Regions from separate parts of the Homo sapiens genome. Here all the other regions are reported to be linked to region 1. Evidence: microRNA targets listed by miRTarBase, many of them from high-throughput screens and not tested one by one. Region 1 holds a microRNA gene; each other region holds the end of a gene's coding sequence.
What was found. The annotated mature microRNA hsa-miR-6845-3p reads CCUCUCCUCCCUGUGCCCCAG and lies in region 1 at 2,982-3,002, opposite strand. An mRNA with a match to its seed (bases 2 to 7 or 8) in the 3' UTR can be bound and repressed. Matches are read on the target gene's strand: a 7mer-m8 pairs with bases 2 to 8, a 7mer-A1 pairs with bases 2 to 7 and ends in A, and an 8mer does both.

Region 2: miRTarBase lists TFAP2B as a target of hsa-miR-6845-3p. Seed matches in the 3' UTR shown: 8mer at 2,466-2,473.
Region 3: miRTarBase lists SKA1 as a target of hsa-miR-6845-3p. Seed matches in the 3' UTR shown: 7mer-A1 at 715-721.
Region 4: the mRNA of TSKU is a reported target of hsa-miR-6845-3p. Seed matches in the 3' UTR shown: 7mer-m8 at 1,495-1,501.
Region 5: the mRNA of HHAT is a reported target of hsa-miR-6845-3p. Seed matches in the 3' UTR shown: 8mer at 3,165-3,172.

The regions. Positions count from the first base shown.
Region 1 is chr8:143,834,775-143,840,894 of GRCh38, forward strand. MIR6845 (microRNA 6845) reads right to left here and starts at 3,042; the gene lies at 2,982-3,042. It overlaps NRBP2 (nuclear receptor binding protein 2), which reads right to left. Exons shown (of 18, transcript NM_178564.4): 1 at 5,932-6,120; 2 at 5,333-5,455; 3 at 5,155-5,256; 4 at 4,962-5,051; 5 at 4,735-4,775; 6 at 4,540-4,634; 7 at 4,398-4,421; 8 at 4,243-4,326; 9 at 4,109-4,164; 10 at 3,906-4,001; 11 at 2,849-2,981; 12 at 2,633-2,735; 13 at 2,475-2,525; 14 at 2,265-2,400; 4 more. The coding sequence starts at 6,060. The coding sequence ends at 888. RefSeq lists enhancers at 2,047-2,774, 6,086-6,120 and a silencer at 6,101-6,120.
Region 2 is chr6:50,842,012-50,848,131 of GRCh38, reverse strand. TFAP2B (transcription factor AP-2 beta) reads right to left here. Exons shown (of 7, transcript NM_003221.4): 7 at 513-5,040. The coding sequence ends at 4,740. Among named protein-coding and RNA genes, the nearest start is that of TFAP2B, 26 kb to the right of the region's middle. RefSeq lists an enhancer at 5,073-5,578.
Region 3 is chr18:50,391,836-50,397,602 of GRCh38, forward strand. SKA1 (spindle and kinetochore associated complex subunit 1) reads left to right here. Exons shown (of 7, transcript NM_145060.4): 7 at 264-2,333. The coding sequence ends at 412. Among named protein-coding and RNA genes, the nearest start is that of SKA1, 20 kb to the left of the region's middle.
Region 4 is chr11:76,795,325-76,801,444 of GRCh38, forward strand. It overlaps TSKU (tsukushi, small leucine rich proteoglycan), which reads left to right. Exons shown (of 2, transcript NM_015516.4): 2 at 285-2,820. The coding sequence starts at 293. The coding sequence ends at 1,354. Among named protein-coding and RNA genes, the nearest start is that of TSKU, 15 kb to the left of the region's middle. RefSeq lists an enhancer at 1-872 and a silencer at 3,855-4,114.
Region 5 is chr1:210,672,915-210,679,034 of GRCh38, reverse strand. HHAT (hedgehog acyltransferase) reads right to left here. Exons shown (of 12, transcript NM_018194.6): 12 at 2,745-4,747. The coding sequence ends at 4,656. It overlaps KCNH1 (potassium voltage-gated channel subfamily H member 1), which reads left to right. Exons shown (of 11, transcript NM_172362.3): 11 at 1-721. Among named protein-coding and RNA genes, the nearest start is that of HHAT, 350 kb to the right of the region's middle.

The DNA.
Region 1 (6,120 bases):
ACTGAGCCAGGAGTGGAGTGGGAGAGAGGCAGGGAGCCAGGAGCTGACATCCTCAGAGGCCCAGGGAGCAGCTGCCCCAGGGAGGAGGTGCGGGAGGTAACATGGAGGGGCTGTGAGTCTGAGGAGCAGGGAGGATGTGGGGTCCCTGACGCCTCCAGGCCAGGGAATGCATGAGAGAAAAAGCCCATTGGAGGGGCTGCAGTGGCCAGAGGAGATCTGCAGAGGGGCTGCAAGTTCTGGTCTCAGGGTGGGTAAAGGGTCAAAGAGGTGGCTCTAGGGCAGAGCTGTGTGGGACCAGGGGCTTTGCTGACAACAGCCTCAACTCCAGACCTCTCTGTGGTCTGTTTCTCCTGCCAGGTCCCTGTTGTGCCCAGTGCCATGCCTGACACCTGCAGGTGTGTCACCGCTGGCTTGCTGTGCAGGCTCCTTGTGTGGGTCTATGGTGCCAGCAGGGGATGGCTGCTCTCCCAGACCCCATGGAGCAGTTCCCTGGGCAGAGGTCTGTCCAGGGCTGACCCTCACCCCCAAGCCCCAGAGCTGGGGTTCCCTACAGGGCAGCCTCCTGCATGCTGAGGAGGCAGTGGCCCCGGCCAGGCAGCCTGGGTAGGAACTCAGGGCGGAGAATGGAGGATATGGGAAGGGGTTCTGGGGGCAACCCTGATCCTAAGGACCTGGGAGGCCTAACGGCTCCCCCACACCCACCCCCCAACCCCTCGGCGCCCAAGGCAGGGTCAGCCCCACTCTCAGGAGACGGGGGGTTCCTTCACTACCGGGGCCTTTGTGCTCCCAGGCGCATGGAGGAGGGCAGCCCCACGGTGCTGGAGTCTCCCCAACATGGCCTGCCCAGGCAGCACCCCGGCATGGTCCCCTGGGGCTGGGGCTCCGGGTCAGGCCTGGGTCCCACGGTACTTGAGGAAGGTGCTCTCCAGGAAGGCGGCCAGCTTCATCCGGTCGTCCTGCGGAAGGAGGGAGGCATGGGGGACGGAGGGGCGCGGCCTGCCCCGTGCGCCCCCTCCGCCAGGCCGCGCCGCACCGCCCAGCGCACCTCGTGGAGGAAGCCATAGTGCACGAGCTCCGAGGCGAGGTCCTGGGCGCTGTCCGCTGAGGCAATGGCGTAAGGCGAGGCATGAGGCCGCTGCCCACCCGCCGCCTGGGGTCACCGCCCGCCGCCCAAGTCCCCTGCCCAGCCTACTTGGGAGCAGGTCGTAGGTCAGCTGCCGGTGCAGCCGGTCTTCCAGCACCAGAAGCAGAGTGAGCTGGGGAGGCGGCGGGGCGTGGTCGGCTGGGGGTTCAGGGCTCCGCCACGCTCCCGCCTTCCCCACGGCAGCGCCGCCCTCCCAGGCCCCGCTCACATGCCAGCGCGCCTTGTCCTCGCTTCTCTCCAGGTTGCACTGCATCTGGATGACCTGCAGCGGGGGAAGGCTGGGACTCACAAACCCAGCAGCAAGACCACATGCCGCGGCCCCAAAGGGGCCGGGAAGGGACAGCAAAGACTGGAAAGGGGGGAATCTCTAAGAGGAGCCCATCTCACTGCTAGTGGCTTGGCAAGCTAAGGAAAGCTTCGAGAAGAGTCGACATTAGGGGCTGGGTACTGAAGGCTGAATAGGAGCTTTCACCGCGGAGAGAACAACTTGAACAAAGAGGGAACTGTGGGCGTGGGGAAAGGGAGGTTGGGCGGGACAGGACCGCGCCGAAGTGCACGGTGCCTGCGGGATCAGGCCTCCCAGAGCCTGGGTGTCAGCTGAGGACTCCCATGATCTCTGCTGGCAGCCAGGAGCAGGCAGTTTGCCTGTTAGGACATGAATTCTGGCTGCACTGCACCGAGAGAGGCCCCTGGCCAGGAGGGGGTGCTGCAGGAAAAGTCTGGGGAGACACCAGGACATAGATGTCCGGGAATCAGCACCAGGTGGGGGATGGGAGGGGTGGGGGGGGTGGGAGGGGTGCGGGGGTGGGGGAAGATTGCTGGCAGGGTGGAAGAGCCCGGGTGAGTTCTGGAGGAAGGATGCTTGGAGTAGGTTCAGGGCAGGCAGCAGGATGCAGGGGAAGGATCTGAGGGGACAGGGAGCCTCCCGGAAAAGGAGAGTGCCCAGCCTGTCCTATAACCCCCATGACCCCCACAAGGGGGTCAGCCTGGATCTGGTCTCTGGCAGCCAGGAGGAGAGCTGGGCTGTGGGGATGCAGGCCCTAAGAGAAGGAGGGGCACCTCTTATCTGGCTGTTAGAAGGTCTGAGGGATGGCACTGAGCAGCAGGAGAGGGGACTCACCTTTCTGGTCTCAGAGTCAAAGGGCTCTGGCGTCGGGGTCTTGGCCTTTTGGACCTCCTCCGGGGGTGGGGCCAGCACACGGGGCAGCCCCAGGGGTCGAGTGGCTGCAAAGTTCATCAGTGGGTAGATTCCATTCCTGGGGACACAACAGGGTGGCTGGGGGTTCAGGCCTGACAGCTGCCTGGCCCCCAACCTTACATCAGTTCTCACCTGACATCCTCCAGGAATTTGTCCAGCTCCATGAAGGAGACTTCCGAGTACCTGGCATGGAAGTGGGAGGCACATGAGGGGCTGGCCGGGGCGAGGGGAGGGGAGGTGCGGGGAGGGGAGGTGTGGGGAGGGGAGGCTTCTGGGTGCTGACTGCTCACCGCCACTGCAGCGGGGGCCTGCGGGGCCGGGGAAGCTCCGCCAAGACCGCGTGCAGGTCCATGGCCTTGGTCTTCTCCTCCACCACATTCTCAGGCATGAGGTCTGCGGCCACAAGAGCATCAAGGCGGTGTGCTCAGGCCGTGGGTCCTGCAGGGCCCCTTCCACGTCCCAACCTCCACCTCCCCAGCCACCCCCCGGGCCGGCCTGCTGCTCACACTGGTGCTGGATGAAGCAGTGGGCTGCCAGGAGCTTCAGCGAGTGCACCTCGAAGAGCACGCGGTGGAAGAGGAGGCTGTGGGCAGAGGGCCGGCGGGCAGGGTCCCGGGCCAGGCAGCAAAGGATGAACTCCTGGGGCACAGGGAGGAGAGGCTGGTGGTGTGCAAGGGCTCTCTGCTCTGGCCCCGCAGTTCGAGGAGAGGTGGCCCCTGAGTTCCCCATGTCCCTCCTCAGGGACACACAGGACATGCAGGGATGCCCATAGGGAGGAGTCCCAGCAGCAGCAGCCAGGCCAGGACCTGGTCCTCTGAGCTTGAGGACAGCTGGGTTCTGGGATTGGAGCACCATGCTCTGCTTCCCTCGACCCCCAAAAAATCGTGGGGAGAAGCCATGATCCTAAAGTCACACCTGCAAGCCTCCTACCCATGGCCTTTTGATCGGCTCAGCTCGGGCCCAACACTGGAGACGACCTTGATGGGTCCCCACTCTGTCCACATCCGTGCCCAGCCCGGCTCCAGCTCGCCACCAGCCCCGACCAGGCACCCCCATCTCCTGAGGCCATGGAGTTAAGTCTAGACTCCGAGCAGAGGGGGCTGTGGATGCAGCTTCCATCCCATACCTCTTTTTGCCTGCTTGGCACCCACCATGTCCCCCCACAAGCTGGAGCCTCATCACCTCCTGGAAGCTTAAAGTCAAGGACTTGGAGTGAAGCAGACCCAGGTGCAGATGTTGGCTCCACCACTCACTCTAAAGCCTTGGGCAAAGGACTCATCTCCTCTGAACCTTGGTTTCTTTATAAAACGGGCATGGTGATGGCAGCCACAGAGGGAGGGTCTCTCTTGCCTTCTTGTCCTTAGAATGTGCTGACCCCTTAGGGCCTTCAGGCCTGGAACCAGTATGTGCTCCCACTGAGGTCCTCTTTGGGAGGGGTGCAGTCAGCTGGTATACCCCTCAACTGCACAAACTGTGATGTTCTCCCAGGTCTGCCTGGAGCACCTTGCTAGCCCTAGCTGAGCACGGTGAGCCAGCTGGGGAGGGGCAGGGCAAGCTGCTTACCCGCATGTTGGGGTCACTCAGCGAGTGCCTGGCGCGAGCAATGGCCTCCTCTGTGACCCGGGTGTCCCCATTGGTCTGGATTTCCAGTACAGCCATCTGGGGCACAGAGCCAGGTCAGGCATGGGGAAGGGACCACACAGGTGAGCCAGGCAGGGCACAGTTAGGAGGAGGGCAGAGCACAAGGTGGAGGGCGGGGGCAGTACCTCCAGCGCACACATCCCAAAGGAGAAGATGTCCACAGCGGTCCCATCGGCCACCTCTGAACAGAAGAGAGCACAGGACACGTAGGAGAGAAGCGCAGGGTAGGCACGGGGCACCCGGACCCAGCACCACTCACCTCCATACTCTGGGGGGAAGAAGTGCAGGTTCCGAAGTTCCTCTCGCTCAGCGCGGATGGGGCTTCGGAGATCATCTGGAAGTGCTGTGGGAGGGCGCAGAGCTGAGCGGGCGGGGACCTCTCCAGGACCCCGTCCCCCCAAAGTCCGCACTTACCATTGGAGAAGATTCGGTGCCACACTGCCAAGGGGCGGGAGAAAGAGTGGAGTTAGCTGCTGGGGCATCAGAACTCCTCTGCCCTTGGCTCCAGGCACCTTCCCCTGCCCCGTTCCCCCACCCAGCCCTGCCCCGCCAGCACCGGAGCCGATCTTGATGAGGCCGTTGTGCTGAATGAAGATGGTGTCGCTGGTCAGGTTCCCGTGGATGATTGGGGGGCTGCAGGCGTGCAGGAAGCTGCAGACGTTGGGGAGGGGAGAGTAGGAGGAGCCGGTCAGGAGGCTCTGGAGAGATGGGGGCTCGGTGGCGCCGCGCCCAGGCCAGCCCAGGCCCTCACCTGAGCGCAGACAGGATCTGCGTGCACCAGCGCTTCCAGGCCTGGCGGCGGACGCACGACTCCGTCGGTCGGGTGGGCGCAGGAGAGGCGGCTGGGCCTGCGGAGCCCGCCCCGCATCCTCGCCCAGCCCCTGTCCGAGGCCGCCGGGCACCCCCTCACCATCCCAGTCCCCGAGGCTGCCCCAACCCCGTCCTGTCCCCGTGGCTGCCCCAGCCCGCTCCCCATACCCGGGCGTTCATGGCCTTGTGGTTCTTCTTGGTCTTTTTGAGGAATTGCTTGAGGCTGCCTGATGACACGTACTCTGTGATGAAGATGACCTGCACGGTGCGAGCTCAGGATTTCCACCAGCTGCGGGTTCGTCCCCATGCCCGCCCCACCTAGCTGTGGTCTCTGCCTGCCCGGGGCCTTGCCCGTGCTCACCCTCGCGCAGGCCTCAGAGGTATCCAGCCAGTACTTGTGCAACTTCACGATGTTCGGGTGGTCCACCAGCACCAGCTGCTCGAACACGGTCTGGATCTTCTCCTGGGGAGGGAGGGTGGTCGCTGGGTGGTCAGCAGGTGGTCACCCAAGCAGGATGAGGAGGGGGCAGCGGTCTCACCTCGTGCGCCGCGAAGGCCTTCCTGTCTCCGAAGTGGAGCTCGTTCCACACCACCTCTACCCCCTCCTCCGTGTCCATGGCTAGGAAGGTGCTCTGAAGCCCTGGCATGTTCCCTTGGTTTACCTGGGGGTGAATAAAGGGTTATGTGTGCCCTGGTGTGTGTCAGGGTTGTGGGTGAGGATTTGGTCCCTGTCCACACCTTTCCAGTGGGCCCAAGCGTGGGCTGCAGGCCCTGAGCCACTCTGCGGGAAGGTGGGGCTTGGAGGGTAGCTGCCCCCAGGAGCCAAGGGCTCCTATCCAAGGGCTGGGCTAAGGGGATTTGGAGCAGGTTTCAGGGGGTCGAGGGGGATCCCCAGGAAGCTAGCGGCTGAGTCCAGAGGCATGGGGAGGTGGTCCTGGGAGGAGACTGGCCCTCAGGGAGTCCCAGGGCGAGCGCCAGGCCAAAGGGGTCCAGGGGTGGCTGATTCGCGGGCCGCGAGGGGCCGCGGAGAGGTTTCCAGCCGCCGCGCTCTCCCAGCGCCCCCACGCCCCGCGCAGCCTCCAGGCCCCTCCCGCTCTGGGAGGGCGGTGTCACCCCGTGCCCCAACCCCCGCGCCCACCTGCTCCCGTCGCTTTTGCCAGCGACCACACGGGCTTTCCTCCAGGATGTCGCTCTCGTCCTCGCTCTCGTCCTCCCGCTCCCGCTCCCGTTCCCGGGCCCGCCTCGGCGCCGGCTCCGGGGCCGCCATGGTTCGGCCAGCCCAGGCCACCGCCCTCTGCGCGATCCGCCGCCGGCGCAGCCTCTCCCG
Region 2 (6,120 bases), not on the chromosome of region 1:
AATGAGGTCAGGGTCGGGTTCAATTCTGAAATGGGGGTTAACTCCTTCATATCCCAAGTTGAGGGGTGCAGGAGCCCACACCCAGCCCTGAAGACTTCTCCTGCACCGTGCACCATCTCCTTCTTAGAACACTATGCCAGAATGCCAACCCACGAGCAGTGGGAAGGGAGCATCATCTCTGACAGCAACCCAGAGTCCTCTAGTTACCTGGGAAGTAAATTTGACTCCTCGATTTGTAAAGGGCAGAAGAAACCAAAAGATTCAGTTAACATTAGCTTTTATTGCAAATCTGGTTAGAAATAGGAGAGAAGAATGTAAATTTGGAATTTAAAAAAATCAAAAACACTTCTCCTAGTGAAAAAAAGTTCATTTTTCTGAGAAGCAAAATTTATTATATTTCTGTTGTAATGAAAACGCTGTGGGTGCTTCGATGGGGGAGGACAAAAAGTAAAAAGCTTCTTACACTTTTCCTCTGTCGGTAGAATTAAAAACATTGTCCACATTTAAGAAACTGAAGATGAAAACACAACAATCTTTTTATTTATGTAAATCAGATTAACACTGGACAATAAACCAATTTCTACCCATTACCATAACAGCTTGTTTATAAAGAACAGAAAAATTCAGATAGGATTCTATCTAGGGTCAAGAGGTTTTTTAACCACCCATTCACAGAGGTATAGATTCACAGATAAATAATCCCAAACTACTTGCTCGCCATATTTACACATTCCCATTAAATTAAGCATAAATAAATATATACAAACTTAACATGAATACCCTCCAGAGCTCTTCTCGTGAAGAGTCAATAGATTGATATTTCTTGATTGTGTGGCAAAAACAATGTTAGAGAATTAGAGACCAACTCAAAGGTGGAGTCGATTTTGGCATTTAAAGAAGGATAGTGTTCATTCCGTTAAAAAAAAATTGATACTTTTTTTTTTAAGCCAGTAATTTCACATACATCGTCAAAGGTGGGGAAACGCCGTTTGGGCTCTTGAGGCAACATCAGACGGTTTAAGGTTATTTCCTTTCCACATAATGTATTACAAGTACAGGATATCAGATGTGATGACAAATTCTCTATAAACACTCTTAACTAGGAAAGCATTGTAGCAGAGGAACAGTGTGTAGATAAGCTCGAGGTTTCGAGTTTTCCATTCGACCAAAGTTTTCGTAGGATATGAAATAATTGCTTGAGAGAAAGTGGCTTCCTTGGCCAAGGAAAACAAAGCAGCCAGGTCTTTAAAAGCCTCTTCGGTTCTTTAAGTGGGGATGGAGGAAAGCTATGGGTGTGGAGGCCAGAAGGAAGGAAAGAAAATGCAAGGTAATTGGGGGTGTAGGAGTGAAGGTGGTGGGGAAAAGGGGGAGAAAGTTACCTTCCCACTTTGGGGGAGAAGTTAAAGATCTTTTTAGGTGACGGAATCCTCACCCAAACAGGACATTTCTTGCTCCCCAGAGACCTGCAATACGTGCAGGAGGCGGCAGGGTTTGGCAGAGAATGGTCTGGAGATCTTTGGAACCTTTAAAAGAACTTGCGAAGTGGAAAGTGTGAAGGCAGCACTGCCACATCCTGACTCCTCCTGTCTTTCGCTATTTTGTTTTGGGACTGAGCGTTTAGGAGTGGGCAGGGACCAAATGTCTGAAGAGTGCAGGGGCCGGGGGGAGAGCTGCAACTCACCTGTTTGGTTTGAAAACAAAGCTCAAAGGGGCTTGCCTTAAACGTCTCCCTTGACTTAAAAGGCAAACTATTGCGTTAATCCTACTGTTTATTGATTTATAGGCCCAAGGAAACCAAATCTTTTAATAACTCAATTATCAGATAAATGTAGCGGGCCTGGCTAAGGAAAGCAAGGGGGCGGGGGTCCTACATGAAAGGAGAAGTGAGGGAGGGAGAAGGGGTAGTGGGCTCACTCCACGAAACGGGGTTGGGGGCGCAAAAGGTTCTATCTCGCTGGAGCAAGGAGGAACACACAAATGAGGGCGTCTGGCAATGAAGGTACCCTGCCTTGCCAAGTAAGACAATTCCCATCCCATCTCCCCGCTTTAGGATTGTGACGGTGGGGTGTTTCCGTACTGGCAGAGGTGGAGGAGGGGAAGCTTCGGATTCCTTGGATATTTCTAGGCCACTCTCCCTCCAGGAGCCGGCGCCCCGGGTGGCCGCTGGCGGCGCTGGGAGCCCTCCCCACCTGCAGCCCACCGGGCGCCGCCCCATTACCTACTGGAGAATGGGGCTTTCTCGGTCGCCTTAGCCCTTAGGGTGAGACCGAGAGCGGGAAGGGCCCGCGCAGTCGGCAGCCCCTCCAGCGGCTGATTCTATGTCCTCAACACGACTGGGCGCCTGTGGCCCACACGCTCTCAGGACCTGCACAGTAAGAGCAAGGCGCGTCCATCGCGTCTCTCGCACGTCACACGCGTGGGGCGCGTTGCCCTGCAAGGAAAGGAGACGATCGTTTTCAGTGTGGTCTCTCCTGGCCTTGTGCAATCAGAACACATCTAATGCGATCGGCCGAGCTCTCGGACGAAGGCGCAGGCCTCTGAGCTGGGAAAAGAGAGTGACTACACTCTCCGTAACGTCTAGCTCTTGGCCATTGCATTCCTCTCAACAGTTCTAGGGCTGGGCCATGAAGATCAGAAGTGCTAAACGAAGCTAGGGGTTGGAGATGGGCTGCAGTGTGGCCCTAACAGTTGCTTGGGCCCTTTTGGTGACCTGAGACGAGCTTCCTAACTTCCCTTTCCTCTTTTAATAAAAATGGGCAAAGCTCTCAGCAGATTCCTAAAACCCCAACGCAATCCCCACTCCCCCAATCCCCACCCCCACCAAGGCAAAGCGGGAGGGGGGCAAAACCGGGAGTCCTGGAGAATTGAGTGGGTCCTAACTATAAATCCTGCAGAACAACATCTATGTCGTTATCTTTAAGGGGTATTGCAAAGATCTCGTCTACTTTGTTAAATAGGTGAGTGTATCAACACTATATTTAGAGACCTCTCTCATTCACCCTTATCCCGGGATAATTTCTCACTGCTTTTGCGGAGGTGCAGACAATGGATTCCAGATCTTATTTCATGATAATGCTAAGATGGAGCCCAAGAAAGGAGCTGGGCTGCCAGAAGTGAGAAATATTAAATGCATGAAACTTTATCCACTGGGAATAGTCCCGATGTATCCAGACGGTAAAAATCAAAGCTGAAATACATCTCCCTTCACTTTGCATTATTTTGCCATTATATGCCAAAACAAGTGCACGTCTGGGAGGGAAAAATGCCTCATTCATAAAGCATCTTGTAAGAAAGCAATTGTTACAGAAATGTGGGTGCTTGTGCCGCCCTCCTCCCCACGTCCACTCGTAAAGCTGCTTCTTTCCTTGCTTAAACAGCAATCACCAAAGAACCCAGGGAAATCAAATCAATTTTAAATGCAGGGCAATACTATTAGAATATAGGGCTCTAAGAATCCTTACTCTTTTCCCTTAAAATTCATTTTGCAGACCCCCTCCCCTGCCACCTCCACCGGAATTGGAGTGTTGAGGAATGTTAGCATGTAGATTCAAAGCTGCTTCCATCATATTGGCCACTTTCTAAATTATTCCCTTTGAGCTTCTTTAAAGAAGTGCACCTGCAGAATTCTGACACACAGGCTTTGATTAAAAAGGGATCGGATTTTTTTTTCTCTGTACCTTATAGATTGTGTAGGAAGCCCAAGTCCTCTTTGAAGAAGCTCATAAACCATGCGGGCAAAGCTTTGGAAAACAGAAGAGAATGAAATGGTACATACCCCTCCGAAGGAATTACATACTAATCAACGTATTCATATTGTGTGTGTGTGTGTTTTTTTTTTTTTACTATAGTTCATAAAATTAGTAGATGACACAAATATAATAAATGTGAGATTCTCTCTATGCAGATGCTGGCAAGGCTGGGAGCTAGTAACATTTCTGAAAGGAACTGATGATGTTTGAATCAACTTATTGGTCCGGATTTTCCTCAGCCGCCAGAACCTGCTCTGCCGGCCGGCACCAAAAATTGCAGCCTCCGCCTGGTCTCCACAGGCCTCCCGCCCCGCCCTCGCCCTCCCTAATTATGCAAGCGGCCGGGGAGCCGGGCCCGGTGAGTTAAGATCGCAGGGCTGGGCGGGGAGGTACCGAGAGGACTGAAACAACGCAAAAGGGCCAACCACACTCATTTTCATCCCAGAAGATTCCCGTAACAATGTGAGGAAGGGAGGGTAACATGGAAAAGGGTGGTTGGGAGACGGGTGAGGTGAGATGGAGGGCGGGGACTGCGAGAGTTTCCTAAAAATATATTTAAAATTAAAAAGTTCGTGCGTCTCAGTCAACCAGCTCTCAAAGCATTGACACCAACGTTTCTCCGATTTTCTTCCAATAAGTTAGCGTTTTTCTCATGTTTAGTCTTATGTTTATTTTCCAAAGGGAAGGGGAAATCATGGTTTTCTTTTATTATCAGTATTACTAAACTCGAAAGAACCGAAGTGGAAAATCCGGACGGTTGTCTCCAAATGTATCTTGAAATAGACACTGAGAACCGATATTGTTGCTCCGTTGTACGCCTCAGTTTTTTTTTAAGTTATTTAGCTTTTTTTTTTAAAATTTTGATTGTATGTGTATTCTACCTAATATAATTCTTCCAAAGCCAATCCAATATTTTAAAGCTAAAATTAAATTTTTGTCTGTTTTTCCTTTTGTATTTAAAACATTTTTCCTTCTTTTTTTAAAAATTTTTCATTTCCTGTGTTTCTCCTCCTTGTCGCCAGTTTTACTACCTGGGCCTTCCCCAGACGTGTGCCTGTTAGTGGTGGTGTTGTTCAAGAACATCTTGTCCATGCCTTTGAGCGCCTCGGTGAGATAGTTCTGCAGGGCCGTGAGCGCGGCGCAAATGGCCGGGGCGCCGAAGCCGTGCGTGATGAGGCTGAAGTGCGTGAGGCAGCTCTGGATCCCCGGCTCCAGGATGGGGCTGGGTCGGCTGTTCCCTATCGGTGTCCGGTCCTGCGCCAGTAGATCCGTAAATTCTTTACAAAGTTGCCTGCAAAGGGGTGGGCGAGGCACAGAAAATCACCCTCAGTGTCGTTGTCATTGGCATTAGAAAGGAGACGCTCACACAAGCCCAGAGGCGCCGGGTCACCGAAGAGCGAGGCTAATGTGGGCGATTCCGCTCTGTTTCCTTTCCCAGCGCCCTCCCTTCTCGAGCAGCTGGGACTGAAAGGAAAGCGGGGGTGGGGAGGTAATGCACCCCTTCCACCCCAAAGCCTTGCCTTCCCCCGACTTCAGCCTTTCTCCCCTCCATTCCAGGACCGCCTGGACTCGCTTTGGGACATTCGCTAGGCTTTAGCAGTTGATTTTTAATACTTCATAATATTGAGCTCTTACCTGGCATTTCTTTTGAGCTGTTTCCCCCGCGCCCCTCCCACCTCTCCAACCTCTTGGTGATCAGGCGCAAAAAGCCCTGAAAGATTTAGGCCCCTCGGCCACAAGCCTGTCCCTGGCACTGAAGCAGATTGCTGGAGCCTTCCATGGCCCAGGGCAAGAAACTGTTTATTCTAGAGAATGCTGATTCCATTCAAAGCAAAAACCTGTTTACCTGCAGTATTGGGGGAGGGAGCTAGTTTCTGCCTTTCCCTCCTTTCTTTCTTCCAAGTGTAGGGCACTGAAAATCTTTGTATAACCAGACTGTTGTCAATATAAAAGGATTCCCATATAGTTTAAATAAAACCTAAAGGTAGGCTGTTAAGACACTAGGGAGGATAGATTTTTATTTGTTGAAGGTTTTTATTTCCTCAAGCCACCTACAATTTAGAGGAATCTCCCAGCCTTAGAAATCCTGCGTGCCTACCTATGGATTGAGCTTATTTGAGAAATTTTAATATAGGAGCTGGATGGGATGGTTCTAGCCCTGAAGGTCAAATGGCTGGCAGGCAGACACACAGCATCCCAAAGGCCACAGCTTTTCACAGATGGGCAGATTTCTCATGTCCACCTGCCTGTACCCAGCCTATGGGTCTGTGGGGTTTAGGAAAAAAATAAACCTACAGCACTCCAGTCCTAGACCCACAATGGGTTGGCCCGACTCACAGATACCTGGCCACACCTGGCCTAGCCAACAGGT
Region 3 (5,767 bases), not on the chromosome of region 1:
TTCTTATAACCACTATGTCACATTGCCTCTTGAAAAGTGAATTGTTCAAGCGATACCAACAGATAGCTAGTGACCTAATAAATATCATGCATGCAACTTCTGTTGATAGAATAATTATTATTTTAGCAAGAATACTAGTTCTTGGTTTTATTGGATACTAACAGTAAAAACGACTAATACCATTCATATTCACAACTTAATGTATTAAAGACTCTTTTGCAAGTTGGCCTTATAAAAATTAGCACTAATATCTTTATTTTTAGGTCGTTATTTTATAGTGGAAGCTGACATAAAGGAGTTCACAACTTTGAAAGCTGACAAGAAGTTTCACGTGTTACTGAATATTTTACGACACTGCCGGAGGCTATCAGAGGTCCGAGGGGGAGGACTTACTCGTTATGTTATAACCTGAGTCCCTTGTGAACTTTTGAACATACCAACAGGGTATAGAGTATAGAGGCTATTTCTATAATTTTCTTATATATAATTTTTTTAACTTTTAATCTTTTTTGTTTCCTTTTTTTTTTTTTTGAGACAGGATCTTGCTTTGTCACCCAGGGGCTTGCTTTGTCACGCAGGCTAGAGTGCAGTGGCGCAAACATGGCTCACTGCAGCCTCAACCTCCCAGGCTCAAGTGATCCTCCCACCTCAGCCCCCTGAATGGCTGGGACTACAAGCGTGCGCCACCATGCCTGGCTAATTTTTGTATTTTTTGGAGAGATGGGGTTTCACCATGTTGCCTAGGCTGGTCTTGAGCTCCTGAGCTCAAACAATCCACCCTCCTCAGCCTCCCAAAGTGCTGGGATTACAGGCTTGAGCCACCACACCTGACCTATTCTTGTTTCTTATAAAAATAAAACTTTTTTGGATAAAGCTTATTTCTTGTTTTTTTCTTTTTCTTTTTTTTTTTTTTTGAGACAGTCTCGCTCTTTCACCCAGGCCGGACTGCAGCGGCGCTATCTCGGCTCACTGCAAACTCTGCCTCCCAGGTTCACGCCATCCTCCTGCCTCAGCCTCCTGAGTAGCTGGGACTACAGGCACCTGCCACCACGCCCAGCTAATTTTTTGTATTTTTAGTAGAGATGGGGTTTCACCGTGTTAGCCAGGATGGTCTCGATCTCCTGACCTCATGATCCGCCCACCTCGGCCTCCCAAAGTGCTGGGATTACAGGCGTGAGCCACCGCGCCCGGCCAACTTATATATTTTCAAGATTCACCTCCTCTCACCAAATATTTAACTACCTGCTGAATACGCCTCTGTACTAGGCACATAATGGAACTAAAAAATGCTCATGTCCAGTTTTTGTGTTGAGTGAACAATGCTGCAGACCCTAATAAGATTGGGTACAGATCGGCATGCGCCTGTAGTCCCAGCTACTCAGGAGAATTGCTTGAACCTAGGAGGTGGAGGTTGCAGTGAGCCGAGATCGTGCCACTGCACTCCAGTCTGGGCAACAGAGCGAGACTCCATCTCAGAAAAAAAGAAAAAAAGACTGGGTACAGATGTGATATTGGAAGAAAAAGATCAAGCTGATGAGGTTAGGATACCCAGGCCCTTTGGACTTAAAGATCACTAGTGTCTAAATTCCATCGATGGCATTTCAGTCTATAGGTAAACTTCCTGGAAGCTGGATTTGGAGACAGTTTATCATCTGATTATTGGGCTTTCGTATAGGTCCTTAGGGAGCAGCTTACCTGAAATGCATTTAGTGTACACCAGTCTGTAAACTTCAACCTGTAATGAAAGTGTAATAAATGTACATTGAGTTGATGTGATAATGTGATATAATAAGAAATATATATTTGATCTTCCTATCTAGTTCCTTGTTCAGAGCTCCTAAAACCCTTGTAATTTCCAAAGTGATGGAGTACATCTTTTGTTCTAGTATTTGGTCTTTGACCCCAGTTCCTGACACAAAGCTCCTAAATTCCTTTAAATTTCCCAGTGATAGGAGAATTTTTTGTTCTAATGAGGTCACTCTTGATGGGCACCTGGATAACTCAGGATGGGGGCTGCTCACAAAGACCACATCATGATTGGAAGTTTCAAACTTTCAGTCTCCCACCTCCAGAGAGGGGAGAGGGGCTGGAGATTTGTGTCAATAATCCATCAGGCCTATGTCAACAAGACATAATCCGTTAACTATGGAGTTCAGGGAGCTTCAGGGTTGGCAAACATTTTGATGTGCCAGGAAGGTGACGCACTCCAGCTTTATGAAGTCAGCAAGTCCTGTGCTCAGGATGCTTCTGGACCTTGCCCCAGGTACCCCTTCATGTGGCTGTTGTTCATCTGTATCCTTTGTAGTAGCCTTAAAATAAACTGTTAAACACAAGTAAAGCATTTCCCTGAGTTCTGTATTGCCGTATCAAATTATCAAACCTGAGGAGGGGGTTGTGGGAACCCCCATGTGTAGCCATGTTGGACAGAAGTATGGGCAACCTGGGGACCTGCTAGTTGTGACTGGTGTTTGAAGTTGGGGATGGTTTTATGGGACTGAGCCCTTAAATCTGTGGGGTCTGCATCAACTCTAGGTATTTAGTGTCAGAATTCAATTAAATATAGGATACTCTGTTGGTGTCTAGAGAATTGGAAAATTGGTTGGGATGGGGAAAAAAACTCCACACATTTGGTGTCAGAAATATTATGTGAATGTAGTATAGAAGAAAACAGGCTTTTCCCTTGTTGGTGAAAAACATGATAAAATAATGTGTGGGTAGGTTGATAATAGTCAAGAAAAATGGGTAATGGGATTGTAAGAACTTAGCCATGTTTCTCTCAGGCACCTGGGGAGACTGGTCTGTCTATGTCTGTGCCATCTGCTTGGCAGGCTTGTCCCTGTAGCAGAGAAAAAATGTGTCTCACCAAGCCTGTGGCCTGGTTAACACCATCACTGTGATGAACACACAGACGCTGCATATTTACTGTTATCCTTTTGTTTTCCTTAATTTAAATACAGGCATGTTTAATTTTTCATGCCTCAACTTAAGTGAAAATAATGGCATTATTCTTTATTTTAAGTATTGTTTGATTTTTGATATGGTTTGGCTGTGCCCCTACCCAAATCTCACCTTGAATTGTAATAATCCCTATGTGTCAAGGGCAGGGCCAGGTGGAGATAATTGAATCACGGGGGTGGTTTTCCCCATGCTGTTCTCATGGTGTAATTAATGAGTCTCACGCGATCTGATAGTTTTATAAATGGGACTTCCCCTGCACAAGCTCTCTTGCCTGCTGCCATGTAAGACATGACTTGGCTCCTCATTTGCCTTCCGCCATGATTGTGAGGTCTCCCCAGCCATGAGGAACTGTGAGTCCATTAAACCTCTTTCCTTTATAAATTACCTATTCTTGGGTATGTCTTTATTAGCAGTGTGAGAACAGACTAATACAATTTTTCTTTTTCTCTTCTTCTCCTCCTTTTCCTCCTTCTCTTTCTTCTCCTCCTCCTTCTCTTCCTTTTCCTTCTCCCTCTCCTCTTCCTCCTTCTTCCCCTTCTCCTCCTCCTCCTCCTTCTTCTTCTTCGTCTTTGTCTTCTTCTTTGTCTTTATCTTCTTCTTCTTGCCAGAATCTCACTCTGATGTCCAGGCTGGAGTACAGTGGTGTGATATTGGTTCACTGCCTCCACCTCCCAGGTTGAAGCCATCCTCTCACATCAGCCTCCCAAACAGGTGCATGCCACCATGCCTGGCTTTTTTTTTTATTTTGTATTTTTTGTAGAGACAGAGTCTTGCTATGTTGCCCAGGCTAGTCTTGAACTCCCGGGCTAAAGCAATCACCCTCGGCCTCCCAAAGTGTCGGGATTATAGGCGTGAGCCACTGCACCCAGCCCATAGATGGTTTTAATAAGGATTCTGTGGTTATAAGAGTGTGAGATGTGCTTAGTTAAGTAAAGATAAGCAGATTTTATTATTTCATGACTTCTGAAGTCCTTCATCTTACCCATTTATTTTCTAAATCTCCAACAGAGACAGGCTGTGTAGTGGAGCACACATTCTACTTGTGGAGAGTTACTTCCATTACCTCTTTCGTTATTTCTGAGGAATACGTATTCATATCTCTGGGCATACTAATGCTCCATGAAATATGTTTTGGAAACATAAAGCAATCTGTTTTGCTTTATGACGTAAAGCAACCTGACATAAAGCAATCTGTTTTGAAACCCCACTCGTTTTTATTAATGAAATGTCATTACACAATCTTATTAGTAAATATATGTATGTAAAAGACATTTATTGAGGCAGTGTAATGGACTTTGGGGTGAGAAGGCTAACCAGAGTTCAAATCCTGGTTATGCTACTGACACGCAGTACAAGCTTCAGTTAGTTAATCTCTTAGAACCACAGTCTTCTTATCTTCTGTAACAAGATAATCACGGCAGTCACCTGGTTGCCCTTGCTGACTCCACTTGGGGGTAGGAGGTGAGAGAAGTACTGGTGAAACTTGAGAGTGCAATTAAAGGGAGATGGATATCCTAAAAACCAGCCCAATTGAGGCAGGAAAATAGGGTCTGGAGGCAAGGAACATAAGGCTGATTCACACTTCAGCTATGACAGGAAATATCCTCTCCATAGGGCGTAGGCCAAGTAAATGATTTTATCACTTCATCCTCTTCATTTACATAGGGCATACCCCAAGTAGAGGGTATGTAAACTCCCCAGAATTCTGTTACGGGGCCTTTGAGTCCCTATGCTCAGACCTGCTCCCACACTGTGGAGTGTACTTTCATTTTCAATAAAACTATTCCTTCCTTGCTTTGTGCATTTTGTCCAATTCTTTGTTCAAGATGCCAAGAACCTGGACACCCTCCACCATTAACACGATGCCTCTTCAGCCATCAAGCTTGATACAGTGCCCAGTGACAGTGACACTACAGTGTGATACAGAGGAGAGGAGAGAGGGGAGCTAGTACAAGGACAGTCTGGGCCGGGCGGGGTGGCTCACGCCTGTAATCCCAGCACTTTGGGAGGCCAAGGTGGGCGGATCACCTGAGGTTGGGAGTTCGAGACCAGCCTGACCAACATGGAGAAACCCCGTCTCTACTAAAAAAAAATACAAAAAATTAGCCGGGCGTGGTGGCGCATGCCTGTAATCCCAGCTACTCGGGAGGCTGAGGCAGGAGAATCACTTGAACCTGGGAGGCAGAGGTTGCAATGAGCAGAGATTGCACCATTGCACTCCAGCCTGGGAGACAAGAACGAAACTCTGCCTCAAAAGAAAAAAAAAAAAAAAAAAGGACAGTCTGCATCCCTTTGGCAGGGCAAGTTCCTGCCAGATGTCTGAACAGCACATGGACTTCTCTGCTTAAAGCGCCTTGCTATGGATCCTGTGGACTGGTTTAAACATACTGCCAACCTCCTCCAGGAAGACTGCCTGTTGGGCAAGGGTCCCCTGGGTGTAAGCTGATATGGAAGGGATAAGACGGGGTTTCTTGCCTCAGGGGCTGTGCAAGGGAGGCCGCTGCTTAGAGGGAAGGAGAGGGCTCAAACCTGCTGTTGAGGTAGAGATTTCCTGAAAGAAAAGATGGTAGCAATCACTTCATGAATAGTCACTATGTTCCCAGAAGGTCTGAGTCCTAAGGACCTTCCTCTGGAGCCTCAGTAAATTTACTTAATCTAAATGGGTCCAGGTGCTGGGGTAATTACCCTTATCTTGTCTCCTGCTAAATTAGAGGTTTGGGGAGTTCCTTCACACCCCCAATAAACTTGTTTGTGGAGGCCAGGGGAGTTTCTTCAGACCCACAGTAAAACTTATTTAATCCTAAATGTG
Region 4 (6,120 bases), not on the chromosome of region 1:
CAGCCAGACCAGGCCCGCCTTCATCTGCTGCTCTTGTTTAAGAAAGGGATCTGCTGCTTCTAGTTGAAAATTCACCACCTGGCCTCACGCCCCTTACCATACAAATGGAGAGGCAGAGGCCAGAGAAGAACTGGGACTAGGAACTCTGGGGAGTGTTCCAGGAAGCATTCCAGGAGGTCGGGGTCTGTGACACCTTCCAACAGTGTCTAGACTGGGCTCATGTCCTGTGTGGTGGCTTTAGACCATCTGGTGCATTCATTCCTCACCTGTGGCTCTCTTTCTAGCCCCCACCATGCCGTGGCCCCTGCTGCTGCTGCTGGCCGTGAGTGGGGCCCAGACAACCCGGCCATGCTTCCCCGGGTGCCAATGCGAGGTGGAGACCTTCGGCCTTTTCGACAGCTTCAGCCTGACTCGGGTGGATTGTAGCGGCCTGGGCCCCCACATCATGCCGGTGCCCATCCCTCTGGACACAGCCCACTTGGACCTGTCCTCCAACCGGCTGGAGATGGTGAATGAGTCGGTGTTGGCGGGGCCGGGCTACACGACGTTGGCTGGCCTGGATCTCAGCCACAACCTGCTCACCAGCATCTCACCCACTGCCTTCTCCCGCCTTCGCTACCTGGAGTCGCTTGACCTCAGCCACAATGGCCTGACAGCCCTGCCAGCCGAGAGCTTCACCAGCTCACCCCTGAGCGACGTGAACCTTAGCCACAACCAGCTCCGGGAGGTCTCAGTGTCTGCCTTCACGACGCACAGTCAGGGCCGGGCACTACACGTGGACCTCTCCCACAACCTCATTCACCGCCTCGTGCCCCACCCCACGAGGGCCGGCCTGCCTGCGCCCACCATTCAGAGCCTGAACCTGGCCTGGAACCGGCTCCATGCCGTGCCCAACCTCCGAGACTTGCCCCTGCGCTACCTGAGCCTGGATGGGAACCCTCTAGCTGTCATTGGTCCGGGTGCCTTCGCGGGGCTGGGAGGCCTTACACACCTGTCTCTGGCCAGCCTGCAGAGGCTCCCTGAGCTGGCGCCCAGTGGCTTCCGTGAGCTACCGGGCCTGCAGGTCCTGGACCTGTCGGGCAACCCCAAGCTTAACTGGGCAGGAGCTGAGGTGTTTTCAGGCCTGAGCTCCCTGCAGGAGCTGGACCTTTCGGGCACCAACCTGGTGCCCCTGCCTGAGGCGCTGCTCCTCCACCTCCCGGCACTGCAGAGCGTCAGCGTGGGCCAGGATGTGCGGTGCCGGCGCCTGGTGCGGGAGGGCACCTACCCCCGGAGGCCTGGCTCCAGCCCCAAGGTGGCCCTGCACTGCGTAGACACCCGGGATTCTGCTGCCAGGGGCCCCACCATCTTGTGACAAATGGTGTGGCCCAGGGCCACATAACAGACTGCTGTCCTGGGCTGCCTCAGGTCCCGAGTAACTTATGTTCAATGTGCCAACACCAGTGGGGAGCCCGCAGGCCTATGTGGCAGCGTCACCACAGGAGTTGTGGGCCTAGGAGAGGCTTTGGACCTGGGAGCCACACCTAGGAGCAAAGTCTCACCCCTTTGTCTACGTTGCTTCCCCAAACCATGAGCAGAGGGACTTCGATGCCAAACCAGACTCGGGTCCCCTCCTGCTTCCCTTCCCCACTTATCCCCCAAGTGCCTTCCCTCATGCCTGGGCCGGCCTGACCCGCAATGGGCAGAGGGTGGGTGGGACCCCCTGCTGCAGGGCAGAGTTCAGGTCCACTGGGCTGAGTGTCCCCTTGGGCCCATGGCCCAGTCACTCAGGGGCGAGTTTCTTTTCTAACATAGCCCTTTCTTTGCCATGAGGCCATGAGGCCCGCTTCATCCTTTTCTATTTCCCTAGAACCTTAATGGTAGAAGGAATTGCAAAGAATCAAGTCCACCCTTCTCATGTGACAGATGGGGAAACTGAGGCCTTGAGAAGGAAAAAGGCTAATCTAAGTTCCTGCGGGCAGTGGCATGACTGGAGCACAGCCTCCTGCCTCCCAGCCCGGACCCAATGCACTTTCTTGTCTCCTCTAATAAGCCCCACCCTCCCCGCCTGGGCTCCCCTTGCTGCCCTTGCCTGTTCCCCATTAGCACAGGAGTAGCAGCAGCAGGACAGGCAAGAGCCTCACAAGTGGGACTCTGGGCCTCTGACCAGCTGTGCGGCATGGGCTAAGTCACTCTGCCCTTCGGAGCCTCTGGAAGCTTAGGGCACATTGGTTCCAGCCTAGCCAGTTTCTCACCCTGGGTTGGGGTCCCCCAGCATCCAGACTGGAAACCTACCCATTTTCCCCTGAGCATCCTCTAGATGCTGCCCCAAGGAGTTGCTGCAGTTCTGGAGCCTCATCTGGCTGGGATCTCCAAGGGGCCTCCTGGATTCAGTCCCCACTGGCCCTGAGCACGACAGCCCTTCTTACCCTCCCAGGAATGCCGTGAAAGGAGACAAGGTCTGCCCGACCCATGTCTATGCTCTACCCCCAGGGTAGCATCTCAGCTTCCGAACCCTGGGCTGTTTCCTTAGTCTTCATTTTATAAAAGTTGTTGCCTTTTTAACGGAGTGTCACTTTCAACCGGCCTCCCCTACCCCTGCTGGCCGGGGATGGAGACATGTCATTTGTAAAAGCAGAAAAAGGTTGCATTTGTTCACTTTTGTAATATTGTCCTGGGCCTGTGTTGGGGTGTTGGGGGAAGCTGGGCATCAGTGGCCACATGGGCATCAGGGGCTGGCCCCACAGAGACCCCACAGGGCAGTGAGCTCTGTCTTCCCCCACCTGCCTAGCCCATCATCTATCTAACCGGTCCTTGATTTAATAAACACTATAAAAAGTTCTTTGCTTTACTCAGCCAGTGTCCACTGGCAATCCCTGGGCTGGGCTCTGGGGCCACAAAGATGAATCAGGTTAGGCCCTGCCCTGGGCAGCTTGTTCTCCCTGAAAAGCCTGATAATCTCAGGATTTGGGGAGTAAGGTGACGTGAAGGAGGGAGTTCCTGCACCCTGTTCACCTCTCATCTCCCGTGGCCCTACCCCACTGTTCCTGCCACCCCAGCTCCAGCCATAGCCATGAGCATGCAGGCCCTTGCACACCTGTTCTCTTGCTCAGGCGTTACTGTGGGACCTTGCCCTTGCCCTCACCCCTGTCTCTCAACCTCCTTCCTATCCAGTAGACCTAGTTCTTGCCCGCCCGCAGAAGCTTCCTTGGCCCCTTCCACCTCCCTCCTCTGAACTGCAACAGTATTTTGTTCTTCCTTGGTGCTTCAGCTGCTATGGTACCCCAGCTCCTGTTTGCACACTTCCACTGACAGAGATCACACTTGGAGCTCATCTGGGTGGCTCTGCTGTCACCAAGTTCTTCCTTCTAACTGGCCAGTCTACAGGGAATGTCTACCATCATCACCAATGACAGGTTTTTCCTGATCCCTACTCTGTGCCCAGAACATTCAGGCCATATGCACTGGTGGGAGCTTGCCCATCTTGTAATCAGGCCTCCCCAGGGAGAAGTATCAGCTTGAGGCCCTGGGTCCGAGGCTGGCACCCAGCGGTCAAGGTAGGAAAGAGCTGAGGCTTGGCGCCGGGCGGTGTGGAGGAGAGGGAGGTCAGGGTGAGACCCCGGGCCCCCACAGTCCTCCTGTTTGTTCTCCACTTCCCCTACATTTCCTGGGACAGGAGAGGATTCAGATGGAGGTAGGGATCACGGTACTTTCACCCAATGGGTCCGGGTCTTCCCAAGTCCCCGCTTGTGGAAGGAGTCCTTGCGGGAGGGCCATGGAACAAAAAGGCCTTAAAGACAGGGCCAAAGCGTGCGGAGGGCAGCGAAGGGAAGGAGGGGGCTTCTGCGGCAATCAGTTCTGGAGCAGGTCACCTCCGCCCGAGCTGCAGCTTCCTCCTCTGCAAAACGGGGCAGGGTGAAGGCCCAGTGAGAGCATGGGCGCGGATGCCATCACGCTGGGCGGGCTCGTCCTTCCCGTGGGGAACCTGCCCTGCACCCCGCAGCCCTGGCCTCCTGCCAGCCATAAGGAGAGCGGAAGCCCCGGCGGGCCTCGCCGACCCGGGAGTCCGCGCGGCCCCTCCCTGCCCGTGCGGAGGCTCCCGGCCCGCAGCGCCACCTCGTGCTCACGCATGGCCAGACACCCCAGATCCCAGCGGGGCCAAGAGCCAGGACCGGGGCGGCTGGAGGCCAAAGTGGGCTGCGCTGTTTGCTTTATGCGGCCAGTCCCTTCCCGCCCACCAGACTACCCTCGCCCTGCCGGACTCCGCCCTCCAGGAACCCTGGCGCCCAGGGCGAGGGCTTCGAATCTTACACAATCAGGAAAATTCGTGCAAAGAATCCGTTTTGGAATTCACAGAAAAGGGTTGAAATCTTGGGGTCATCACTAACCAATTGTGTGATTTTTGGCCAGGTCACTTTACTTCTCTGAGCCTGGAAAATAGGGATGAAAATATCTCCCTCAAGGCCGGGCACGATGGCTCCTGCCTGTAATCCCAGCACTTTGGGAGGCTGAGGCAGGAGGATCGCTTGAGCTCAGGAATTCAAGACTAAGACCAGCCTGGGCAACATAATTTAAAAATCTAAAAATTAACCGGGCATGGTGACGCCTGTAGTCCCAGCTACTTGGGAGGCTGAAGTGGGAGGATAGCTTGAGCCTGGGAGGTTGGATGACAGAGTTAGACCCTGTTTAAAAAAAAAAAAAAAAAAAGCAAAGAGAGAAAAATAAAAATAAAAGAAAGACAAAAAAGAAAGAGAAACAAACAAAGAAAGAGAAAATACCTCCCTGAGCCTGGGAGGTTGAGGCTGCCGTGAGCCGAGATTCTACCACTGCACTCCAGCCTGAGTGACAGAGCTAGACCCTGGAAAAAAAAAAGAACGAAGGAAGGGAGGGAGGGAGAGAGAAAGGAAGAAAAGAAAGAAAGAGCAAAAAAGGAAGAAGGAAAGAAGGAAAGAAGGAAGGGAGGGAGGGAGGGAGGGAGGGAGGGAAAATATCTCCCTCCACAGGACTGTGTGTAGAAGAAATGAAGTAACATTTGTAGAGAACCAAGTACGGTGCCTGGCACAAAATGGCAGCCTCTAAGTGCTCTTTCCCGCCCTCATCCAACCATGGAGTTATGAAGTAGATTACAGAGCCATGTAGTCTGAGTCTGTTTTTTATAACTCGCACTCAGAACTGAAGAATTTTGTAAAGTTCTGGGACTGTAGAATCACAGAACGACACCCGGTAATCCACAGGGTCATGGAGTAGGTACTCACCGTCAGCTGTGGCCCAGCTCACCACCATGGGTCAGCAGGGTCACCAGCCTCTTTATGCCTTTCACAGTAATGCAGCGGCCAGCTATGGCTATGTGTTCCTCATGCTTTGTGTACATGCCATCATCTCCTCACAACTGCACCAGGTGTTTTTGTCACCATACAGATGAGGAAACCAGCATAGGCCAGGCTTTATCTGTCAGGTGGCAATTCTCACATTCTTCCTTGTCCTACCCCAGGGGCCGGGCCAGCTGTGTAAATCCCATGAATCAGAGAGGGTAGAGGTGCACTGATAAACCAAAAAGCACTGGGATTCCATTTATTTTTTATTTTCAAATAAGTTGCAGAAGTTATGCAGTTCTACATAGCTCCGATCAGACTGTGGATTCTAGATCTTAGAGTATAAAAAGCCAAAGGTCAAAGTCAAAGTCCTTTCTCTCCTGGCCCCTTTTCACGGATGGGGAATCTGAGGCCCAGAGACGAGTAAGTTCCCATGGTCCATGGCCAGGATTCTGTGCTTCAGAACGGCCTATGTAATTTGTGGGACCCAGTATAAAATGAAAATGTGGGGCCCCTTGTTCAAAGTTATTAGGATTTCAAGATGACAAGAACAGAGCATTAAACCAAGCACAGGGTCTTTCTATGGTTTCACTGCCCATGAAGCCAGCCCTGCTGCCATTTGATCATCTCATTTCTAGAGGAGGGGCAAACACCCAGACAGTGTTGGTCAGGATGGCAGAAGAGAGTAGGTGTGGATTTGTGTGTAATCCAATCCCTCTGTAGTTCAGGGAGCCAGTTAGACTCTTCCAAATGCAGGAATGTCCCTCTGTCGTTATCACACAACCCCCTGGTTTCCCCACCTTGCCATGGCCAAAAGGCTTTCAGAGGG
Region 5 (6,120 bases), not on the chromosome of region 1:
AATCAATGTGAATTTATCTGCAGCTTAAATTCAAGTGAAACTTCATTCTCATGCAAGCATATCAGACTTATTCTGGAACCTCTAGAACTGGACTTGAATTCCCTGCAGGTGCCAGACTGGTGGGTGCCCTCCCTGCCTGCCATTAAACTTTTCTTACAGCCACTGTCCCTTTATCTGTGACTTCTGAGTCATCCGACGGATCCATTAGTTGTTCAATGAGAAGTTCACAGATCTTGTATCAGGATATAAACTGATCTTATGTTGAAGGATGCACCCTCCCCTAATGAATGTATTCTCTTAATATTCCGATGCTGTATTTGTGCATCAGTTGGAGACTGTCCACATCCGACATTTCACCGACACCTCAAGGACACTTCTACTTATGAGCAGTTCATCATTCTGGGGCTTCTCCTTATATTAATACTCTTTCCATTGAGTCCTGCCAAATCCTTTATTGGGTTTTCTTTTTCCTTTGCATCTGTCACTTTGTCCAAATGAGCATGAATAAACAAAAGTGTAAATGAGCTGATACTATTTTTGTGGTCAGCTGAGGATGCTGCCAAGAACACCACTGTATATCTGTGGCTTGGGAATGTTAAGAGGAACGTGCAGGCCCTTCCATTGATGATATTCCCTTCTCAACATTTTTAAACAAGCACAAATGATATTTGTAAAAAAAAAAAGTTTTATTTATTATGGTAATAAACTATTTTATACATGATACTTGCTTTTGCCTTTCCTTACATTACTTTTAGGTCACTGAATTGGCTGTTCTGACCTAAGATGACAGAACAAGGATGGTATTTTCTCTTCAAGAGTTTGGGAAGCTCTTATTTGGACAGCACTTATAGTTTTTTGAGAACTTAAAGTCCAAGATTCACCAAGATTGTGTGTCAAAGTACCAAATAGTGAGAGAATGGACATGAAGGTATGCAGCTGTACAATCTTAAAGTACAGCTGCAGCTGCTGTACAAGGGCACAGATGTTGACTTCAGTGCCTGGGATCACGGAAAACTGTATGACACACGGATCTGAGATACCCAAAGCTGACACCTCCCACCCCACTTAGATGTACACTTTTTTATTTTGAAAACTTTGGATTGAAATTTGTATAAAATATATTAATGCTTCCCTCCTGCCTTTTAAAACGTAGTATGAAGAATATAACAATCTTTTTTGAATGACTCAGTGTCTACAATATGAGCTCTGATCTGTGCTTTACACTTCATTGATAGTCTCAGAAGCTATTAAGTTAGCTTGCCTCTAATCGAAATAGTCCCATACACCAGCATGGTTTCAGTTTTGCTATTTTAATCGGTGTTGCTTCCTGCTCATGGCAAGGCTCCACAATACTGCCAACCTGAGTCCTTATTTACCATCCAGTGGACCACATTACAAACATGGCACTTCTCTTATTATAGACAGTATAACTTAATTAGGAGATGAGGAATCTGACCTACAAGCGTCTACTTGATCTTATAGGATCACAGTAGGGGTACAGTATTTTTAATGTTTCCTTACCCATGATTTAATCAAATTGCACAAAAGCATTATAAAAATAATAAGGGTGATATTGTTTAAAATTCCAAATTATTGATGTTTCAAAATTATCACTAATAACTTATTATTCTTTTTTTTTTTTTTCTTGAGACAGGGTCTCACTCTGTTGCCCAGGCTGGTCTCAAACTCCTGACCTCAAGTGATCCATCTGCCTCAGCCTCCCAAAAGTGCTGGGATTACAGGTGTGAGCCACCACACACAACCTAAAGCATTCTGTCTGATCTCTTCAATGTTGCAAAACATCTCTGTGAATATGATTCTTGTAATTAGTCAAAAGGACGAGTAATATAGAGCTAAGTAATGAATGCCATGTTTTGGGTGCCAAATGGAGTTCAATGATTTTAAAAAGAGGGTTTTTTGTTTTAAAATAAAACCATTTCCCTGAGAAAGCCTCAGAGAGGCTTTCTCAAAATGTGCTGAGGCCAGTAGTATCATACTTTGGCTTCTCATGTTGTCCACACTGAAGGGAACCCTATTGTATGGATATATTCTGATACATCTGCTAAAAACCAAACTCATTATATTACGGTTAATTTACTATGTTTAGTCAATGGTTATATTATTATTCTAAATAAGCAAGTGAGCAGTCTCACTTTCTGTCAGGAGAAGCCACCCCCTCCCCTACCTAAACTGCTATTCTCCCAGTATATAGATTATAATACAATTATTTGTTCATTGATTTATTTTTTCTTGAGGCCTGCTGTCTTTAATGAAACAAAATGTTTTCTGCTGACACTTCAAATTAATTTGAAAAAATAATACCTTTCAGTCTTCTTGTGTGGTCCCAAGAATTAGAATGACTGAGGTTTGGGTGTCCTTCAGGTATCTTGCTTCCCTCCTTGGGTAGCATCTTGGCGATTGTGCTTGGAGCTCTTGGGCTTGCCTGCAGAGCGAGGCTGGGATCAGAGGATCCAGGCGCTGGAATTGACCTTGGGACCTTGTCTATTCTTTTCCCAACACTGCGCCTGAAGTTGCCCAGGGCTGATGACATGTCCAGTGTCATTGCCTGAACTCCTCTGTGCGCCCAGGCACCACCATTCAGAGTAACTACAAGATTTTAGTGAATATGCATGAGGAGAGAAGCATTATCATTTTCATATTACAAGTGGGGAGTAGGAAGAGGTTAAGCAAAACAATGGTCCTGGATAATCCACATATTAATTAATCAGCCTCAAATACAGAGCTAAACACAGTAATCATTTATTAATTCCTGAGAACCATTATGAATCATATAATAGTTTAAAAGAGATTCAGGATTACCACTTTCAAATATATCCACTGACGCTTCCAAAGTAGTTTAATGAATGAATAAACCTATTTGTTTGTATATAAATGGTATACTTGGAAGAGCTCAAAACTTTTGTATTACTTATATGTGCACATACATTAGACACTTCCCTATCATCATTTTTACTCCCTTTTTTCTTAGCAAGCCCTTTCTTTCCAAGTAAACTTCAGTCAGACTCCCTCTGGCTGCCCACAAATCCTCAATCACTGTTGGTCCATGAAGGTTTACTGCGTTCATTTAGGTGCTCACTCCTCCCTGAGGCTCATCCCCTCCTAAAACTTCTGAGCACCCCGGAATTACTGGCCCCATGTCTCTCTCTCTCCTTTACCAAGACAGCTGCTGAGGCTGCTGCTATGCAGGTCTACCTGCCCCTCTCTGGCCTCTGTCTTGCTTTAACACATAATGTGCCTACCCCAGGTAGTCAGTATCTGGCCCCCTCCCATCTCTTTGCCAAGCAGAGAAGCTATGAAGAAAGACAATCAACAAAATGGTCCTGTACTCTAGGAGCTAAAGCCTCATTGAGATGATAACCTCAACTCAAGACATAAGGGCCATGCTATGTAATAAACAGGAGGCAGCACTAGGTCCAAGTGAACCTTTCACTCAATGACAACTTAATTTACGTACTTGAGATGTTGTAAATTCTCCTGTAATTAGATATATTATGGATTCAAATTTTAAGCCTCCTTTATACCCTTCCCCACTCCAAAAAAAAAAAAAATCCAAATTCAAACAAGTCTTCTGAATTATCTACCACTTGGGAACTTTGGTAGCCTATCCAGCATCTTTTCAGAGGAGTGAATAATCAAGTTATGTGAGTATATTTAGATTTTAAACATTTTCCTCAAACATATTCAAAATAATTCTACAAACATGTAGATTATCTACAGGACAGAAAAGGCTCTGTTTGAATCAAACCTTAATAATATAAACCACTAAACGTGAATCACTGAGTAGGAGGATGACTTTTGAGACTTGTATGGAGAGGGTGGACAAGACTCCAGGACACCATCCTCATGACTGGCCTTGATAACACCCATCTGTGGGTACACTATCCTGTGGTTTCTAAATTCTGCTTCTTTATTAAGAAACGATTAACTGTAAGGTAGAGGAACTACCATGTTATACTTCTCTGCAAATCTCAGAAACAAGCACCCAAATGTAGATCACCCTGCTGAAGCTCAGATCACAGGACTCCTTGGGTATAGATGCCTTAGAATGCTACAGGGCTGCTACCGTCTTCTTCGACTACGTAATTCAAAAGACAGCTGTGGCTTGGTCTCATTCCTACAGAGGGGCTGAAGCATGAAACTCAAACCCTAGTGCTGCTTCTGGAGATACTGCAGGATGTGATGAAGGAGGTCACTTAAACATCAATGTCACTCAAATATTTTAGAAATATTGCCCAGAAGACAGGCCTATCACTAATCAGGATTTCTGTGTCTCAATCAATAAATTTCCACTACATTCTATTCTTGCTTAAGGGGAAAGAATGCAAAGGGCTCATGAGACTAGGTTCTAGACCAAAATGTCACCCTGTGTAGCTGGGTAAGACACACGACTGCCCTGGACCCGTTTCCTCAATAGGAAAATGATGAGTTGGGGTAGAAGATCTCAAAGACTCCAGATTAGAAGATTGTCTGGCTGTGAATTTTCTATGAGATCCAGCATCCAGTCTTGGAGTGAGGGCATTCAACTGAAGATGAGCAGATCAAATCCCTTAGAGGCTGTCCTGGAGTGAGAGGTCAGGGTGAAGCACTATTTGCCTTGGAGGCCAGCAACAAGGACTGGCCTGGGCCCAACAGCATTAGTCCGTGGCGTAGGTCTGGGCCCAGGCAATGCCCACGTGGGAGTAGCAGTACAGGAATCCCAGGACAGAGAGGGTCACCCAAGGCCAGCCTGCAGAGGGAGGACAGAGATGGAAGAGCAGTTAGAAATGCTTGGGGCAGGACATCCCACATGGGCAAACTGTCCCCTTTTGGAGAAGGCAACCTGACAAACAACAAAGGCCTCCAGGAAAGTCTGCTGTAATGACAACTTCAGCAATTGAGTCCTACATTCCCATCAGAGTCAGCATAAAATGAGGAGTGCACTATTGCAAACACAAACCATGTTTATGACGAGTTAGTGGGTGCAGCGCACCAGCATGGCACATGTATACATATGTAACTAACCTGCACAATGTGCACATGTACCCTAAAACTTAAAGTATAATAAAAAAAAAAAAAAGAAATAGGGCAAGCTTTTAACGAATCCATGTTTAGAGCCAGGCACCTGTAATCCCGGCACTTTGGAAGGCTGAGGTGGGAGGATCACTTGAGTCCAAGAGTTGGAGACCAGCCTGGGAAACATAGTGAAACCTCATCTCTACCATAAATAAATAAATAAATAAATAAATAAATAAATAAATAAATAAATAAATAATAAATAAGCCAGGCATGGTGGCATGTTTCTGTAGTCCTAGCTACTTGAGAGGCCAAGGAGGAAGGATCACTTGAGATCAGGAGTTAGAGGTTACAGTGAGCTATGAGTGTGCCACTGCACTCCAGCTTGGGCCACAGAGTTAGACCCAGTATTGGTTTAAAAAAAAAAAAAAAAGAAGAATCCACGTTTAGAGGACTAAAGCAGTTAGTAATTGAAAAAGGAAAAAAGTCCATGAGTCTGAGTGTAGTCTCATGTGGCACTGTAAACATGTAGGTCATGTTCCAAAATCTGTACTTTTAGATGAGTTGTTTGAAATCAGGGTACGTTTCCCCCTAGAATAATATTGTGTGATTCATGGACAAGACACAAAAATCACCGTCATCATCACCGTTGTGTGTTTTTTTTTTTAAACTTGTAGTAAATGTGAAATAACACTAATAGGAGCTCTGAGCCCTGGGGCACTTAGGTTCCAGAAGCCCAAATATAGGGTCCTCTGTCCTTCTTGGTCAGCCTCCCCAGAGGTTTCAAGAATTCTAAGTGGTGAGGGGTGGGATAGAGACATGCAGACGTGGCTTGTCCTTGGCAATGAGACAGGAAGGCGCCAGCAGCCAAGAGGGAAAGGGTGCCGGGCAAGATCAGGAGGGTCATTTGATTGGGGCATCACAACATTTCACAGAGAGCTTTATAAATTTAAATTTTTGACATTTCTTTTGAATATGGCTAGCTAGGAAGTCATTACCTTTGTCAATCCAATTGTGTGTGTTAAAAGAAACGAACGACTGTGAAATGTAGGCATTTACAATGAACTACATTTTTTTCTTAAAGTCCATGAGTCCCATAGTAAATCT